2 separate regions of the Homo sapiens genome follow, and region 1 is linked to region 2. A link means that fine-mapping ties the variant in region 2 to the expression of a gene that starts in the linked region. Tissue or cell type: whole blood. Region 2 holds a variant in brackets; the other region holds the start of a gene. All regions are shown on one strand. Distances are between the middles of the regions.

Region 1 (8,000 bases), 820 kb before region 2:
TGCTAGGATTATAGGCGTGAGCCACCATGCCTAGCCTAAAATACATTTTTGTCATGAAGTGTTTATAAGAGGTGAAAGAAGTTTTTGTTGTTTTTGTTTCACTGTGCTTTTTCATTGACAAAAAAATGAAACAAGGGATTATGGTAGAAAAAGTTTTAGATTTCTGAGTAAACCAAAACTGATTATGATGATGAAGAAGGAAAATATTTTAGAGGGAGGAAACTAAAAAATAGACACATTAAAAAAATGGGTCAGTTATTCAGTGGAAACTGCATTATTCAAAAACCAGACCTGGGCTTTCCTAGCAATGTACTTGTTTAGGAAACAAACTGATGTATTAGGTTTACATTTGATTCCTTTAAAATAAACACACAAAGAACCTTGATCCATAGAAAAACTACATAAACAGATTTGAAAAGTATTTATCTAACAGTTTCTTTATTTTACTCACCTAATGGAGTTAGTGGACCAAAATTTGAAGTTTTGGAAGAGATCCAAAAACATTCAAAATAAGTTCATGGCCTTCTAACAGGGCAGTAGAACATGATCCAACAGGATTAGAGACAGCCAAGTAGGAAAGACTTCTGCCTAGCAAACACTGACCCAAGTCCAGAATATTCTCTGCATAGCAGCATTATATACATGAGTAGGTCCTGGGTTCATTTCAGTTTTCTTTTCTTTTCTTTTCTTTTTTTTTTTTTTTTTGAGATGGAGTCTCGATCTTGTCGTCCAGGCTGGAGTGCAATGGCATCGTCTCGGCTCACTGCAACCTCTGCCTCCCTAATTCAAGTGATTCTCCTGCCTCAGCCTCCCATGTAGCTGGGGTTACAGGTGCCTGCCACCATGCCCGGCTAATTTTTGTATTTTTAGTAGAGACAGGGTTTCACTGTGTTGGCCAGGATGGTCTCGAACTCCTGACCTCAGGTGATCCGCCCGTCTCGGCCTCCCAAAGTGCTGGGATTACAGGCGTGAGCCACTGCACCCAGCCTCATTGCAGTTTTCTATTATGTTGATGGAGGCTGTCTCTAAGGAGCTCTCTCATACCAAATGAATCCTGAGCCTTACCAAAAGGCAGGGTTTTTTCCTTTGTAAATGTTTACATTCATATTCTAATAAATAGTACACTAATAATGGATTTTATGTATCATCCAGACCCATGAATCCCAAATCTATATCTCTGATCTAGACCTCTTCTCTGCACTTCAAGTGCCTCTATATCCAATGGCCACAGATGTCTAACAGGCATCTCAACTTCATGTGATGTCTCTCTGATAGGAACATTATTTCCACCCCAAACCTGTTCCTCTCTGTTTTTCCAGTTTTAATAAATGACTCCACCATTCACCTGATTTCTCCAAGATGTATCCTCAATTATTCCCTTTCCTTCATACCCTGTATCTATTTCACCAGCAAGCTCTACCTTATTTGATCTGCTTCCAATGCATATCTTGAATCCATCCACTTCTCTCCATTTCTGTTTTCCTAATCTAAGTTGTAATTATTTCTTGCCTGGGTCTTCTCCCTGATATTCTTGCCTCCTTACTCTCAGCTTAATACAGAGCATCCAGTGTGCTCTTTTAAAAACTTTACAATCAGCTCACTTACTTTTCAGCTTGAAATGCTTTGAAGCAGAGCAGTGATCTGGGTCCTGCCGACTGCCCCAATTTCCACCTGGCTCATGCTCTGCATGCACTTCCTTAAAGAGGCCAAGACCTCTCCCACCTCTGGGCTTTTCATTTGTTCCTTCTGCCTAGAATGCACTTCCCTCCGCTGATTCATTCTTGTCCTTCTGGCCTCTGAGAGCCTTTCTCCCAGTTACCTTCTCATGACCCAGTTCTTTCCTTCATTGAACTAATCACGATCTGTAATTATATTTTTTGGTTTTTTTTTTTGTCTGTCTTCTCCCTGTTAGAATGTAAGCTCTATGACGGACCTTTTCTAACTTGTTTGCCATTGTGTCCCCAACTTGGAGCCTAGCTCATGCCTGCTACATAATGGGTGCTCAATAAATATTTGTTAAATGAATGAATCATACAGCAGCTCAACTTGGATTATAATTTAGATACTCTAATTTATATTCCAGTACTTATCATGCTACCTCAAACAAAAATGGAGGTAAGAAAAAAAATACTGATAGCCAAGTCCTCCCCTCACTCCACCAAAAAAGAGGGGTTGTTGTATGTGTGTGTATACATTTACTCAGTTCAATTCCAGCTTAACACCATTGGGTATTAACTGTGTATATGATACTGTACTACAAGTTGGGACTTCAGCATAAATTAAATGATACCTGCCTCTAAGATGAATAAAAGGACATGGGCAAATACACAACTAGCCACAAGTCAGCTGTTGTGTTATAAGCAACTGTGCTTGAAGTAAATTAGCTAACGCCAAGACAGATAGCAGCATAGTCTTAGGATCCACTAATAATGCATTATTAAGACCAAACTCTTCCAAGGACTTGGGAGTAAGCTATGGTTCTGTTCTTTTCCAGCTGGCGTTTTTTAACATCCCCTTGATGGCTTACATGTGTTGGAGCTTGCTGCAGCGGTGCTTTGGTCACAACTTCAGGTCTCATCTCCATCAAAGAAAATACTTGAAAATTATGCCTGTTCACCTACTTATGCTACTGCTGTACATCTGGCAGGTTTATTCCTGCTACTTTCTTTATGCAACATACGGCACCCTAGCTTTTTTATTCTCCCCTTTGCGGACCTGGTTGACACTGCTGACACCTGTTCTCATTCGTTATGTGTGGACACTGAACTCCACCAAGTTTGGAATCTTCATGGTGCAGTTAAAAAGCCACCTGAGCTCCTGAAGGCCATGTCTCACCACTGGCAGCTGGGCAGAAGCCCAGCCTCTGTGTCTGTAGCCCAGGCCTCTACCCCAGTAGCAGGTGGAGGGCCAGGATTGGTGGGTGAGCTTTAGGGAGCAGCTGCTCGTTTGGAGTCCTGGACGTTGGAGGGATTACCCACTACTGATACCTGCAGAATGGACTGCAGAAAAGTCTCAAAAATAATGCCTTTATTCCTTCCCTCCCTAAGGAGGCAAAGAGTTGATTTACCTTTGTGAAGAGAAAACCCTTATCTAGGACATCCACAGGGTAGAGGTTGGGTGTGTGTACGGGAGTGTCTGAGGCCCAGTGTGTTTTTTAGGGTTACCCCATGTAAAGCACTTACCGCTGTGCTTGGAATTCAGCAGCTGTCAAAGGTGCAATTTCAGGGGCAGGGAACCTTTGAGGATCTGGGCCCGACCCTCACTACCCCTGAGATATTAGTTCCCAGGCCTGTTTTCCCACAGGATTGTGGGCTCTCTGCTTCCTTAGTCGGAAGTGTTTTCAACTAATCAAATAAATGAATGAATGATGAATAAGAAAGACGGTGAGCCTGAGGCTTGCTTGTGTAGCCTGGCCTAAGGGGCAAGAGAAGGCGTGGCCTGTCCTGGCCTCTGAGAGTGGGATGGTTGGTGCTGTACCTCAGGGGACAGGGCGGGGCGGGAGGAGGCGGGGCCAGGCCTGGTCTCTGATAACGGGATGGGTGGTGCTGGACCTCGGGCGGGGCCGGGCCTCGTGGCGGGAGGAGGCAGGGCAGGGCCTCTGGGACGGGGCTGGACGGCTTGTTGACGGAAACGAGCCCTTGACGCTGTGGCCCGGAAGTGGAGCGGCTGTCGCAGTGCGGCTCCGGCAGTGGCAGCGGAGGCCTGTGTTTGCGGCCTTCGGCAAGCGACTGAGATGGCGAGCGCAACTGCACCTGCAGCCGCAGTCCCCACCCTGGCTTCGCCTTTGGAGCAGCTCCGGCACTTGGCGGAGGAGCTGCGGTTGCTCCTGCCTCGAGTGCGGGGTGAGCTGACGGAGTTAGAACGGGCGACGGCAGGGGCGGGCTCGGGGTCGGGGAGAGGCCGGGCTCGGGGTCGGGGAGAGGCCGGGCTCGGGGTCGCGGAGAGGGCGGGCTGGGGCGGCGGCGGGGAGCCGGGCTTGGGCGAGGGAGGTGGCTCCGCTTACCTCAGCTTTTCCATTCGCCACCGTTCGGCCCCCACACGCCACACCCACAAGTCGGCGAAGCCCAGGAGACCACCGAGGAGTTTAATCGAGAGATGTTCTGGAGAAGACTCAGTGAGTGCGCCTCCTTCCGGGCTCCCCTTGCCTCAGTTCCTCCAGCGTCCCGACCCCTTTTCCTCCCGCTGTCCCCCACGGAGGGGACTGCTCTCCCCCGCTGCATCCTTTCTGTGAGGTACCTTACCCACCTCAGCACCTGAGAGGGTGAAATAGAATTCTAACCTCGACATTCGGGAAGTGTTTTTGAGAAGTCTCGGTCGGTAAGGGAAGTCTTCCAAGTCCGTGCAGCACTAACGTATTGGCACCTGCCTCCTCTTCGGCCACCCCCCAGATGAGGCAGCTGTGACTGTGTCAAGGGAAGCCACGACTCTGACCATAGTCTTCTCTCAGCTTCCACTGCCGTCTCCACAGGTGGGCTTCACTTTCGTGGAATCCTTGGGCTGCCGAGTTACACCTTAGGAATCCTCTAATTTTCTTTCCACCTTTTGCACGCACGCCAGGAGATTTCTTTTCTTCATCTGTCCAGTGAGGTTACCGTTTTTACTTCACAGGATTGTTGTGAAGACCGAATTGCCAAGTGCAGTTCCTGGCGCGGAGTAGGCAGGTCTTATAAATATTGGTTCAGTCTGAAGTTTATCCTGGTTGTTTCCCTTCTGATAATTTTTTAAGCACTTTTTATTTGCTGGGTGTTTTCACATACTTGATGGCCATCTGACAGATGAGCAAGGAGGCTCAGAAGCTCAGCTTAAGATTTAAAAAAAAGCAGGGGGGCTAGAATTTAAATCAAGGTCTATCTGATGTCTAAGCTACCTATTCTGTTATACTGCATAATACCCTTTTTATATTATTTTTTATATTTAATCAGTAACATATGTAGATAGTACAAAATTCAACAGATATCAAAGTGTGTTAAGTTTACCTTTCCACCCACTTTCTCATTTTTGTCTCCCCCAGTTCCTTTTGCATTATTCCACGTATATTCTGTGCATATATACATTCATATACATTTATCTGTATGTGTCAGCTTCTTTTTACACAAATGATACATAAACACTGTTCTGGACCTTCCAACTTAGAATTACTGCAAACAGTGTCGTGATGAATTACCTAATTCTGTGTATGTGTGTATATTGGTAGAAAAAATTCCCGGAAGTAGAATTGCTAGAACAAAGATTTATGCATTTTAAATATTCCTTTATTATAAAACTAATGAAAGTAAACATGTTGGCTATGACCACGTATGCTCTATGCTCAGTTTTTCTAGAGTTGTGTATGCTTAATATAGGAGTAAGATTCTTTTAAAATGGCATATTCATTGCCTTATTTGATTTTCATAGTCAATTGTTTTAATTTTTCAGTCTACATATATAGGTGTTTGGAAAGGATATAAATATCTTCTGCTGCATGTACCTACAGTGATAAACTCTCTCCTCCTACATACCTTTGAGATTTTTTTTTTTTTTTTGAGACAGAGTCTCTCTCTGTCACTCAGGCTGGAGTGCAGTGGCACAGTCTGGGCTCACTGCATCCTCTGCCTACCGGGTTCAAGCAGTTCTCCTGCCTCAGCCTCTCGAGTAGCTGGGATTACAGGCACCTGTCACCACGCCTGGCTAATTTTTGTATTTTTAGTTGAGACGGGGTTTCACCATGTTGGGCAGGCTAGTCTCGAACTCCTGACCTCAAGTGATCCGCCTGCCTTGGCCTCCCACAGTGTTGGGATTACAGGTGTGAGCCACCGTGCCTGGCCTACCTTTGAGATTTGTGATGAGGAAACAAGAGATGAATTGTATGAGAGCACTTCAAAAGATTCATGGAAAATACTTATTTCAAAAAGAGTAGTTAATATTACCTTATTTTTCTTATCTGCTAACCCCTTTCTTTCAAATGCACTTAGGACTTGCTGCTAAAACTCACTGCAAGTAAGATACCACAAGGAGGCAGCATAGAACTGATTTTCTATACATGCTCAGGACAGTAGTTTCACTCATAGATGAAAAGTTAGAATTTGGATTTATTTGAAATATATACAAATATTCAAGTATATACATATATTCAAATAAATACATATATGTATATATGTGTGTATATACACACATACATACACATGAATCATCATTGCCTTCTTGAGATCTCACCACTTTAGTCCTACTAAAAGATGGGTGGTTGTTGGTTTTTTTTTGTTGTTGTTGTTGTTTTTTAAATTCCAATCTGTATGGAATGATACTTTAATAAAATTATGTGCTCGGATGTTGAATAAATGTCAAATTGCCATAAAAGTTTCTAAACACTCTCAGTCACTGCTTATCTCATCCCTGACTGGTCACAAACAGTTTGTAGACTGGCTCCAACCTGGACCACATTTGTATAGTATTGACTTAGAATTTAACAGAAAATTGAGGACAAGGAAGATGAGAAAGCCAGTGACCACCTAGAAGGAAAATAGTTAACATGGAGCATTGTCGAGTCCATGCTAGTTACCTTTAGTTACATATTCTGATTCTGTTAAAAAAAGAGAGAGACCTGGTTAATGGTTTAATAACCATGGTCTGTCAGTTGGTCTGTCTGTCTCTCTCCCTCCCTCTCTTTTCTGTAAAGGGCCAGTTAGTAAATATTTTAGATTTTGTAACCAACTACCCAACTCTGCCCTTATAGAGCAAACACAACTACAGACATTAAAACCAGTGAGTATGGCTGTGTCCCAATACACTTCATTTCCAAAAACAGGCAGTGGGGCCTGACTTGGCCTGAGGACCACAGTTTGCCAGCTCCTGGTCTAAGATATCATGAATATCTTGGGATACAGAGTATCAGGAATAAGTTTTTTCCTGCTGTTTCTTAATGGTTTATTGAGTTGTCAGCCCAATATCTACTATATAGCTAACTCCTCCCTGGTATGTGATGAGTATAGTAGGCCTGCCTTCATACCAGGACTTCAGAAAATGTTTGATGATGCTGTAGAAATATCTGCCCTAGGCCGGGTGCAGTGGCTTACACCTGTAATCTCAGCACTTTGGGAGGCCAAGGGAGGTGGATCACCTGAGGTCAGGAGTTCGAGACCAGTGTGGCCAGTGTGGCAAAACCCCATCTCTACTAAAAATACAAAAAATTAGCTGGGTGTGGTGGCGGGTGCCTGTAATCCCAGCTACTTGGGAGGCTGAGGCAGGAGAACTGCTTGAACCTGGGAGGTGGAGGTTGCAGTGAGCCAAGATTGCGCCATTGCACTCCAGCCTGGGTGACAGAGTGAGACTCTGTCTCAAAAAAAAAAAAAAAAAAAAAAAAAAAGAAAAAGAAAGAAAAGAAAAAGAAAAGAAATATCTGCTCTATTCCACAGCAGAAGGGTTGACCACTTTGATCTAATCTGTTTCCTTTTTCATAGGAAACCCAGAAGTTCTGTGAACAAGTCCATGCTGCCATCAAGGCATTTATTGCAGTGTACTATTTGCTTCCAAAGGATCAGGGTAAGCCACATAAGTGTTGCATTTATCGTGTAGATCTTTGCTAATATTGTGGATTATGTCTTGTGACTTTTACCTTTACCCAACTTGAACATGTAACTTTCTCCCATAAAATACAGTGAAGGATAATTTTGTAATGTAAGTGACTTATATAAACAAGCCATTATTCTAAGATACAGATGCTTTGTTCCTATGACTTCCCATCTCCCCTGCCTTGCCTGACTCATAAGGCTTTTAATTCTCACAGCCTTCTCCCTCTTCAACCCGTTTTAACACCACAGATACTGGCTGGCTCTCAGCCCCATATGCAGGCTCAGGCCATCCTTACTTTCCTCCACCCATGTTATATCTCACCCTATTTCTGAACATCTGCATAGGTTAAATGGCCTCCAGCCCTGCCTGTAGAATCATGCATTGATTATAATCATGCCAAAATTATAACTGAATACATGTCATGGATCTTCAGGGTTACTCAAGTGGCTTAAACT
Region 2 (8,264 bases):
TTAATCTATAATAGCAATTTGGACCAATAGCTCTCATATTTATTTTTCAAACCAGCATTCTCTCCAAGAGGAATGTGTCCTTACAAGAAATTTAGTAACACACCCACACCAGTGAGCCAAGGTACTTCAAATGAATGTTAAATCAAACTTCCAGAGAAAATGCCATAGTTTTTATTTAACATGTATGTATACCTATGTGTGTACATATCAGTACAAGCATACCTCATTTTATTGTGCTTCACTTTATTGTGACTCACAGATACTATGTTTTTGTTTTTGTTTTTGTTTTAATAAATTGAAGGTTTGTGGCAACCTGGCATCCAGCAAGTCTACTAGCACCATTTTTCCAATAGCACATGCACACTTCATGTCTCTGTGTCACACTTTGTTAAATCTTGCAATATTTCAAAGTTTTCCATTAATATTATTTTTTCTTACAGTGATCTGTGATCCTTAATGTTACTACTATACTTGCTTTGGGGCACCATAAGCCATGCCCATAGAAGATGGCAAACTTAACAAATGTTTTATGTGTCCTCACAGCTCCATCAACCAGCTGTTCCCCCAACTCAGTCCCTCTCTTTGGGCCTCCCTATACCCTGAGACACAACAATATTGAAATTAGCCAATTAATAACCTTTCAATGGCCTGTAAGTGTTCAAGTAAGAGGAAAAGTCACATGTCTTTAACTTTAAATCAAAAGCTAAAAATGATTATGCTTAGTGAGAAAAGCAGGTTGAAAGCTGAGATAGACTGAAAGCTAGGCTTCTTGAGCCAAATAGCCAAATTTGTAAATGCAAAGGAAGAGTTCTTGAAGGAAATTTAAAGTGCTACTCCAGTGATCACATGAATAACAGGAAAGTAAAACAGTCTTCAGGCTGATATGCAGAAAGTTTTAGTGGTCTGGATAGAAGATCACACAAGACACAGCATTCCCTTTAATCAAAGCCAAATCCAGAGCAAGGCCTTACCTCTCAATTCTGTGAAGGCTGAGAGAGATAAGAAAGCTGCACAAGACAAGTTTGAAGCTGGCAGAGGTTGGTTCATGAGGTTTAAGGAAAGAAGCCATCTGTATTAAGTCCACTCTCATACTGCTATAAAGAAATACCTGAGGCTGGGTGTGGTGGCTCATGCCTGTAATCCAGCACTTTGCGAGGCCAAGGCAGGCAGATCATCTGAAGTCAGGAGTTCGAGACCAGCCTGGCCAACATGGTGAAACCCCGTCTCTACAAAATCAGCCGGGCATGGTGGCATGTGCCTGTAATCCCAGCTACTCGGGATGCTGAGGCAGGAGAATCACTTGAACCCGGTAGGTGGAGGCTGCAGTGAGCCGAGATCACGCCATTGCACTCCAGCCTGGGCAAAAAGAGTGAAACTCCATCTCAAAAAAAAAAAAAAAAAAAAAAGAAAAAAGAAATATCTGAGAGTGGGTAATTTACAAAGAAAAGAGGTTTAATTGACTCAGTTCTGCAGGCTATAAAGGAAATACAGCGGCTTCTATTTCTTGGGAGGCCTCAGGAAACTTACAATCATGGTGGAAGGCAAAGGGGAAGCAAGGCATCTCACATGGCCGGAGCACGAGGAAAAGAGTGAGGGGAAGGTGCTACACACTTTTAAACAACCAGATCTCATGATAACTCTTATCCCAAGAACAGCACTAGGGGGATGATGCTAAACCATTCATGAGAAGCCACCCCCACCAGATCCAATCACTTCCCACCAGGCCCTACCTCCAGCACTGGGGATTATCTTTCAACATGAGATCTGGGCAGGGACACACATTCAAACCATATCACCATCTCCATAACATAAAAGTGCAAGATGAAGTAGTAAGTGCTGATACAGAAGCTGCAGCAAGTTACCCAGAAGATCTACCTGAGATCACTTATGAAGGTGGCTACAACAGATTTTCAATGTAGATTAAACAGCCTTCCACTGGAAGAAGATGCCATCTAGGACTTTCATAGATGGAGTAAAGTCAACGTCTGGCTTCAAAGCTTCAAAGGACAGGCTGACTCAGATTAAAGGATAATGCAGCTGGTGACTTTAAACTGAGGCCCAATGCTCATTTACCATTCTAAAAATCCCAGGATCTTTAAGAATTATGCTAAATATATTGTGCCTGTGCTCTATAAATGAAACAACAAAGCATGGGTGACAGTACATCTGTTTACAGCATGGTTTACAGAATATTTTCAGTTCATTGTTGAGACCTGCTGCTCAAAAAGAAAAAAAAATCCTTTCAAAATATTACTGCTCACTGACACTCTACCTGATTACCAAAGAGATCTGATGGAGATGTACAGGAGATTAATGTTGTTTTCATGCTTGCTAACATCCAGTTGGTAGCCCATGGATCAAGGAGTAATTTGCACTTTCAAGTGTTATTTTAAGAAATACATTTCATAAGACTATAGCTGCATGAATAGTGATTCCTCTGATGGATCTAGGCAAAGTAAATTGAAGAACTGAATGCCATCATTCTAGATGCCATTAAGAACATCTGTGGCTCATGGGGAGAAGTCAAATTATCAACATTAACAGGAGTTTGGAAAAAGTTGATTCCAACCCTTGATTTCAAGCTGTCAGTGGAGGAAGTAACTGCAGATGTGGTAGAGATAGCAAGAAAACTAGAATTAGAAGTTGAACCTGAAGATGTGACTGAATTGCCGCAATCTCAAGATCTTATGGATGAGCAGAGAAAGTGGTTTCTTGAGATGGAAACTACTCCTGGTGAAGATGCTGTGAACATTGTTGAAATGACAACAAAGGATTTAGAATATCCCATAAACTTAGTTGATAAAGCAGTGGCAGGATTGGAGAAGATTGACTCCAATTTTGAAAGAAGTTCTACTGTGGGTAAAATGCAGTTAAACAGCATTGCATGCTACAGAGAAATCTTTCATAAAAGGAAGAGTCCACTGATGTGCCAAACTTCATGGTTATCTTATCTTATTATAAGAAATTGTCACAGCCACCTTCAGCAGCCACCACCCTGACCAGTCAGCAGCTGTCAACATCAAGGCAGGACCTTCCACCAGCCAAAAGATTTTAACTTGCTGAAGGCTCAGGTAATTGTTACCATTTTTTTTTTTAGCAACAAAGCATTTTTAAATTAAAATATATAAATGTTTTTTTCCAGCCATAATGCTATTACACACTTGACAGACTACAGTATAGTGAAACATAACTTTTATATGCACTGGGAAACCAAAAAATCTGTGACTTGCTTTATTGCACTATCCACTTTATTGCGGTGGTCTGGAACTGATTCTGCAATATCTCCAAGGTATGCCTACATATATATAAACCTCTGCTTTTAATGATACTGTGAGGGCCTAGAATTTCATTTGGAGTTAATGTACACATTTGACAAACTTGACTGTTTTGAGAACAATGTTTTTAATCCCTCAAGTTCTCTGTCTGCTGATCAAAATGGACATTAACATCCTAACATACTTTGCATTTTCCTAGTATCTACAAGGCCAGATATTTTTATCTTTTAATTTTTTGAATTTTTAAAATCTAATTTTTTTAATTAATTAACTAATTTTTTTTTTTTTTTTTTTTTTTTTGAGACAGAGTTTCGCTCTTGTTGCCCAGGCTGGAGTGCAATGGCGTGATCTTGGCTCACCGCAACCTCCATCTCCCGGGTTCAAGTGATTCTCCTGCCTCAGCCTCCCAAGTAGCTGGGATTATAGGCATGTGCCACCACCCCGGCTAATTTTGTATTTTCAGTAGAGACGGGGTTTCTCCATGTTGGTCAGGCTGGTCTGGAATTCCCGACCTCAGGTGATCCACCCGCCTTGGCCTCCCAAAGTACTGGGATCACAGGCGTGAGCCACTGCGCCTGGCTGCTAATTTTTTTTAAAGAGATGGGGTCTTGCTCTGTTGTTGTGGCTAGAGTGCAGTGGGATGATCATGGCTCACTGCAGCCTTAACATCCTGGGCTCTAGTGATTCTCTCACTTCAGCCTACTGAGTAGGTGGGGACAATCGGCAATTTTTTTTTTTTTTTTTTTTTTTTGTAGAGATGAGGTCTCCCTATGTTGCCCAGGCTGGTCTCAAACTCCTGGACTCAGGTGACACTCCTGCCTCATTTTTCTGAAGTGCTGGGATTACAGGCATGAGCCTGTAAGGCTTTATTTCTAGAAGCCTTTATTTCATGTAGAAGGCTTTATTTTATTATTTTTTTGAGACAGAGTCTTGCTCTGTTGCCCAGGCTGGAGTATAGTGGCACCATCTCAGCTCACTGCAATCTCTGCCTCCTGGGTTCAAGAGATTCTTGTGCCTCAGCCTCCCAAGTAGCTGGGACTATAGTTGTGAGCCATCACACCTGGCTATTTTTTTTGTATTTTTAGTAGAGATGTGGTTTCCTCATGATGGCCAGGCTGGTCTTGAACTCCTGACCTCAAGTGATCTGCCTGCCTCAGCATCTCAAAGTGCTGGGATTACAGGCATGAACCACCGCGCCCGGCCACAGGCTTTTTTAACATGTGGTGCACCAAAGATTTTTGTATGTAAAATTTTGTGTAAATGTATTTTCATTGTGGAAGCTAATACTTGCATCAGATTTTCAAAGGATTCTCTGACCTAAAATAAGTTAAGAATCACAGCATTAAACTTGTAGAGTTCCTCC[A/G]TTAAAAATTAGCTTCCCAGGCCAGGCGCAGTGGCTCACACCTGTAATCCCAGCACTTTGGGAGGCTGAGGCAGGCAGATCACCAGGTCAGAAGATCGACACCATCCTGGCTAACACGGTGAAACCCTGTCTCTACTAAAAATCCGAAAAATATGCCAGGTGTGGTGGCAGGCGCCTGTAGTCCCAGCTACTGGGGAGGCTGAGGCAGGAGAATGGCATGAACCCGGGAGGCGGAGCTTGCAGTGAGCCGAGATTGCACCACTGCACTCCAGCCTGGGTGACAGAGGAGACTCCGTCTCAAAAACAAAAAACAACAATAACAAAAAATTAGCTTCCCGACGACAGGAACCATGTCTGTCCCATCATCTTATCTTAGTTCCTACCAAGTAGTAAATAATAAATGTTGAACAAATAAAAATAAGGAAATGAATAAAGAATGGATGAACAAATCACTAATTTATTGCCTCAGCTCACACTATCTCTTCTTTGCCCAGCTTTCTAAGGGTTGGGTCACAGTAGCTCATATGACTGATAATGAGTCAGAGAGGTAATAAGACTTGCTCAATGCAGTTATCACTAAACATGGCTGGGGGGAACCTTTGTAGGAGTGAAAAAGAAATCTTAAAGATGCAAAAGACATTTGTCTTTCTGTACATTTTTAAAGTAACATGTGGCTGGGTGCAGTGGCTCATGCCTCTAATCCCAGCACTTTGGGAGGCTGAGGCAGGATGATTGCTTGATCCCAGGAGTGTGAGACCAGCATGGGCAACATGGAGAGACTCTGCCTCTACAAAATACAAAAAATTAGCTAGGCATGGTGGCACACACCTGTAGTCCCAGCTACTCAGCTGGCTGAGGTGGGAGAATTGCTTGAGCCTGGGAAGTCGAGGCTGCGGTGAGCCGTGATTGTGCCACTGCACTCTAGCCTAAGTGACAGAGTGAGACTGTGTTTGAAAAAAAAATCCACTTTTATGGAGTTTTTTTGAGGCATAGGTTTCCTGGGGGCTTTGGGGTGCTGTGTACTTCTAGGTACTAAGAGGAAAGGCCCAGAGAACAGGCTGCTAAGAGCTTGCTCCAGGTCCCAGGCTTAAGGGGAAAAGGTAATATTTATTACCCTTAAAGTTCCCTGTTTGGCTGTCCAACTCAGCTTATAAAAGTAAGAATGGAGACAGAAATTCAAATAAGAATTCTGCCCAGGAGTAAACACTGTGGATCTCTACTGCATCTTTTTGGAACCTGAGTATATTAGACAGAGCACAGAGGCTACTCTTCCCTAACATCATACCCTGACCTTCAAAGGGGTTTAAACATTTTTATTATCCAATTTCTGCATTATGCTGGCCATAAAGAATCATTTCTATTTATAAGGGAATTATCCACTAAGATTGATCAGGCTATTGTTGAGGACAGATTCCATCTCTGGAATGGCTGCATCTATTCTGCTGAGGGAACTTTCTGCCATGGATGGCTTGGCAATGAATTACCAGAAATACTCAAGAGGAAAGCAAGTTGCCTTCTGTCTCCACTTTACACACAGCAGAAAACCCAAGTGGTTATGGAATACAGTGAATTACCCAGAAACAATCAGTTACCAGAAGCTCTCTAGGATTACAGTGATGACTAACCTCAGAGATGAAGCCTTCCAAGAATCTCTTCTCAATCTTTTTTCCTTTTCTTTTTTTTTTTTTTTTAGACAGAGTCTTGCTCTATCACCCAAGCTGGAGTGCAGTGGCACGATCTCAGCTCACTGCAACCTCCATCTCCTGAGTTCAAGCCATTTTCCTGCTTCGGCCTCCTGAGTAGCTGGCTAATTAATAACTGGCTAATTTTTGTATTTTTAGTAGAGACAGGGTTTCACCATGTTGGCCAGGCTGGTATCAAACTCCTGACCTCAAGTGATCCAGCTGCCTTGGCCTCCCAAAGTGCTGGGATTATAGGCGTGAGCTACCATGCCTGGCCTCAAGAACCTCTTCTCTAAACCAGACCTACAAATGATATTCTTGACAATGGAATGGATTACTTGAAGCACAGAAAACAGAAAGGAAGTTAAACAAACATGAATACAACAGGGAACTCTTCCATATAGCTTTTATGCTGGGCAAAAGAGCCCTAACTGTGGGCAGAAGTTGTTCAAACTTCATTACTCAACGTTAAAAAAAAAATGCTTCAGTGGGTACCTACTATGTGTAAAGCATAGCACTGGGCACGATGAGAGAACTAGGGTGAACAAGATGAGAAGAGTCCATGATCTCTAATACTAGAGATAAAATATGAACACTAATAACTGGAATGCAGGTGGAAAAGAGGTACAGATAATTTAGAAGAGACAGAACATTTGGCTAGTGGCAGTGGGGTCTTGTTGCTTCTGCTTGGTGGATTAAGGAAAGAAGGAAAGAAGGTTAGGGCCTTGGATGCCCAGCTAAGTAGGCTTCTTTTCTTTTTCTTTTAATTTCCCTTCCTTCTTTTCTTCCTCTCTCCCTCCCTTTCTTCCTTCCTAATACTTTACATCCTTAAAAGTTTTAAGTAGAGAACTGAAGACGATAAGAACTGCTCTCTGGAGAAATTAATACGGTAGTAGTGAAGTTTGTAGCAATGGGAATTGAGAGACAGAGCCAACAGATGTTTAGGATATAAATCAACAGGTCCAGGCAACTAACTGTTGTGGGGATCACTAAGAGGGAAGAGTCAAAGGTGACTTGGAGAATGCTGATGTCATTCAAGAACAGGTGCCCAGGAGAGAAATAGAAGAAGGTCGGACAGATGATGTGTGGTTCTGGACACAATGAAGTGTTAGTGAAGCCACCTGACAGGCTGTTGGAAATGTGCGACTGAAGCCCTGAGGAGAGGTCTGGATTGCTGAAGCTATAGATGTGAGACTATTATGCATACAAATGAGCTGATGCCATGAAAGTGGATGAGATCATCAAGGGAGATAGCAAAGGAGGAGGAAAGAGAAGGGTAAAGGGCAGAACCTTAGGGAATACTTGCATTTAGGATAAGAAAAAGACCCTGATGACGCCATCAAAGAAGGAATCATCAGAGCAGTAATCTGAGAATCAGCAGACTGTCACAAAGCAAGAAAGAGGCTCAAGAGGGTGTAGGAGGTCACAACAGAAAATGCTACCCAGAGGTCAAAAAGGATGGGGCTTGAGAAAAATGCCAGCGAGACATCGAGGAGCATTTTTCACTAGACTTTTGGTGGGATCAGAAATCAGAGGTTTCAAGTGCAACAGCTAAAGAGGGAACAAATGGGCTATTCAATTCATATTTGTTGGTGTCCATCTGTCTTTACTGCTTGACTCTTCTTTTTCCTTCCTGAACTCACCATCTGTTCACTTTCACTGCTATGTGCAAATTTCTAAAGACCTTCATTTTAAGGATTCAGCAGATACTGACAAATATTGACTTAATAAATCTCCCTAAGAAATCCTAGATTCCTAAAAGGGTGACTGCTTGTTCACATTTTGTTTCTCAAGCAAAGATATCCCAAAGACAAGTGAAATGGACTGCGGATAGAGAGGGCTGACTGTAAGTGCACCACTGAATAAATGACACTTCCAAAGTCTTCCTGACTATCACAGAGACTCTAAACTTTTCTAAACACTCTGCAGATATTCTTTTGACAC

Evidence for each region. PIP is the estimated chance that this variant, and not a neighbour inherited with it, causes the effect.
Region 1: it holds the start of CCNDBP1, and the variant in region 2 is fine-mapped to the expression of CCNDBP1 in whole blood (TOPMed, PIP above 0.99).

Annotation. Positions count from the first base shown.
Region 1 is chr15:43,181,766-43,189,765 of GRCh38, forward strand. It overlaps CCNDBP1 (cyclin D1 binding protein 1), which reads left to right and starts at 3,638. Exons shown (of 11, transcript NM_012142.5): 1 at 3,638-3,842; 2 at 4,055-4,114; 3 at 4,389-4,468; 4 at 7,434-7,515. The coding sequence starts at 3,734. It overlaps TMEM62 (transmembrane protein 62), which reads left to right. Exons shown (of 14, transcript NM_024956.4): 14 at 2,495-3,379. The coding sequence ends at 2,821. It overlaps LOC124903478 (a long non-coding RNA gene), which reads right to left and starts at 4,122. Exons shown (of 2, transcript XR_007064604.1): 1 at 4,004-4,122. RefSeq lists silencers at 3,364-3,663, 3,884-3,973 and an enhancer at 4,144-4,243.
Region 2 is chr15:44,004,088-44,012,351 of GRCh38, forward strand. All of the region lies in intron 1 of FRMD5 (FERM domain containing 5), which reads right to left. Among named protein-coding and RNA genes, the nearest start is that of WDR76, 180 kb to the left of the region's middle. The variant A/G (reference allele first, on the strand shown) is at 4,639.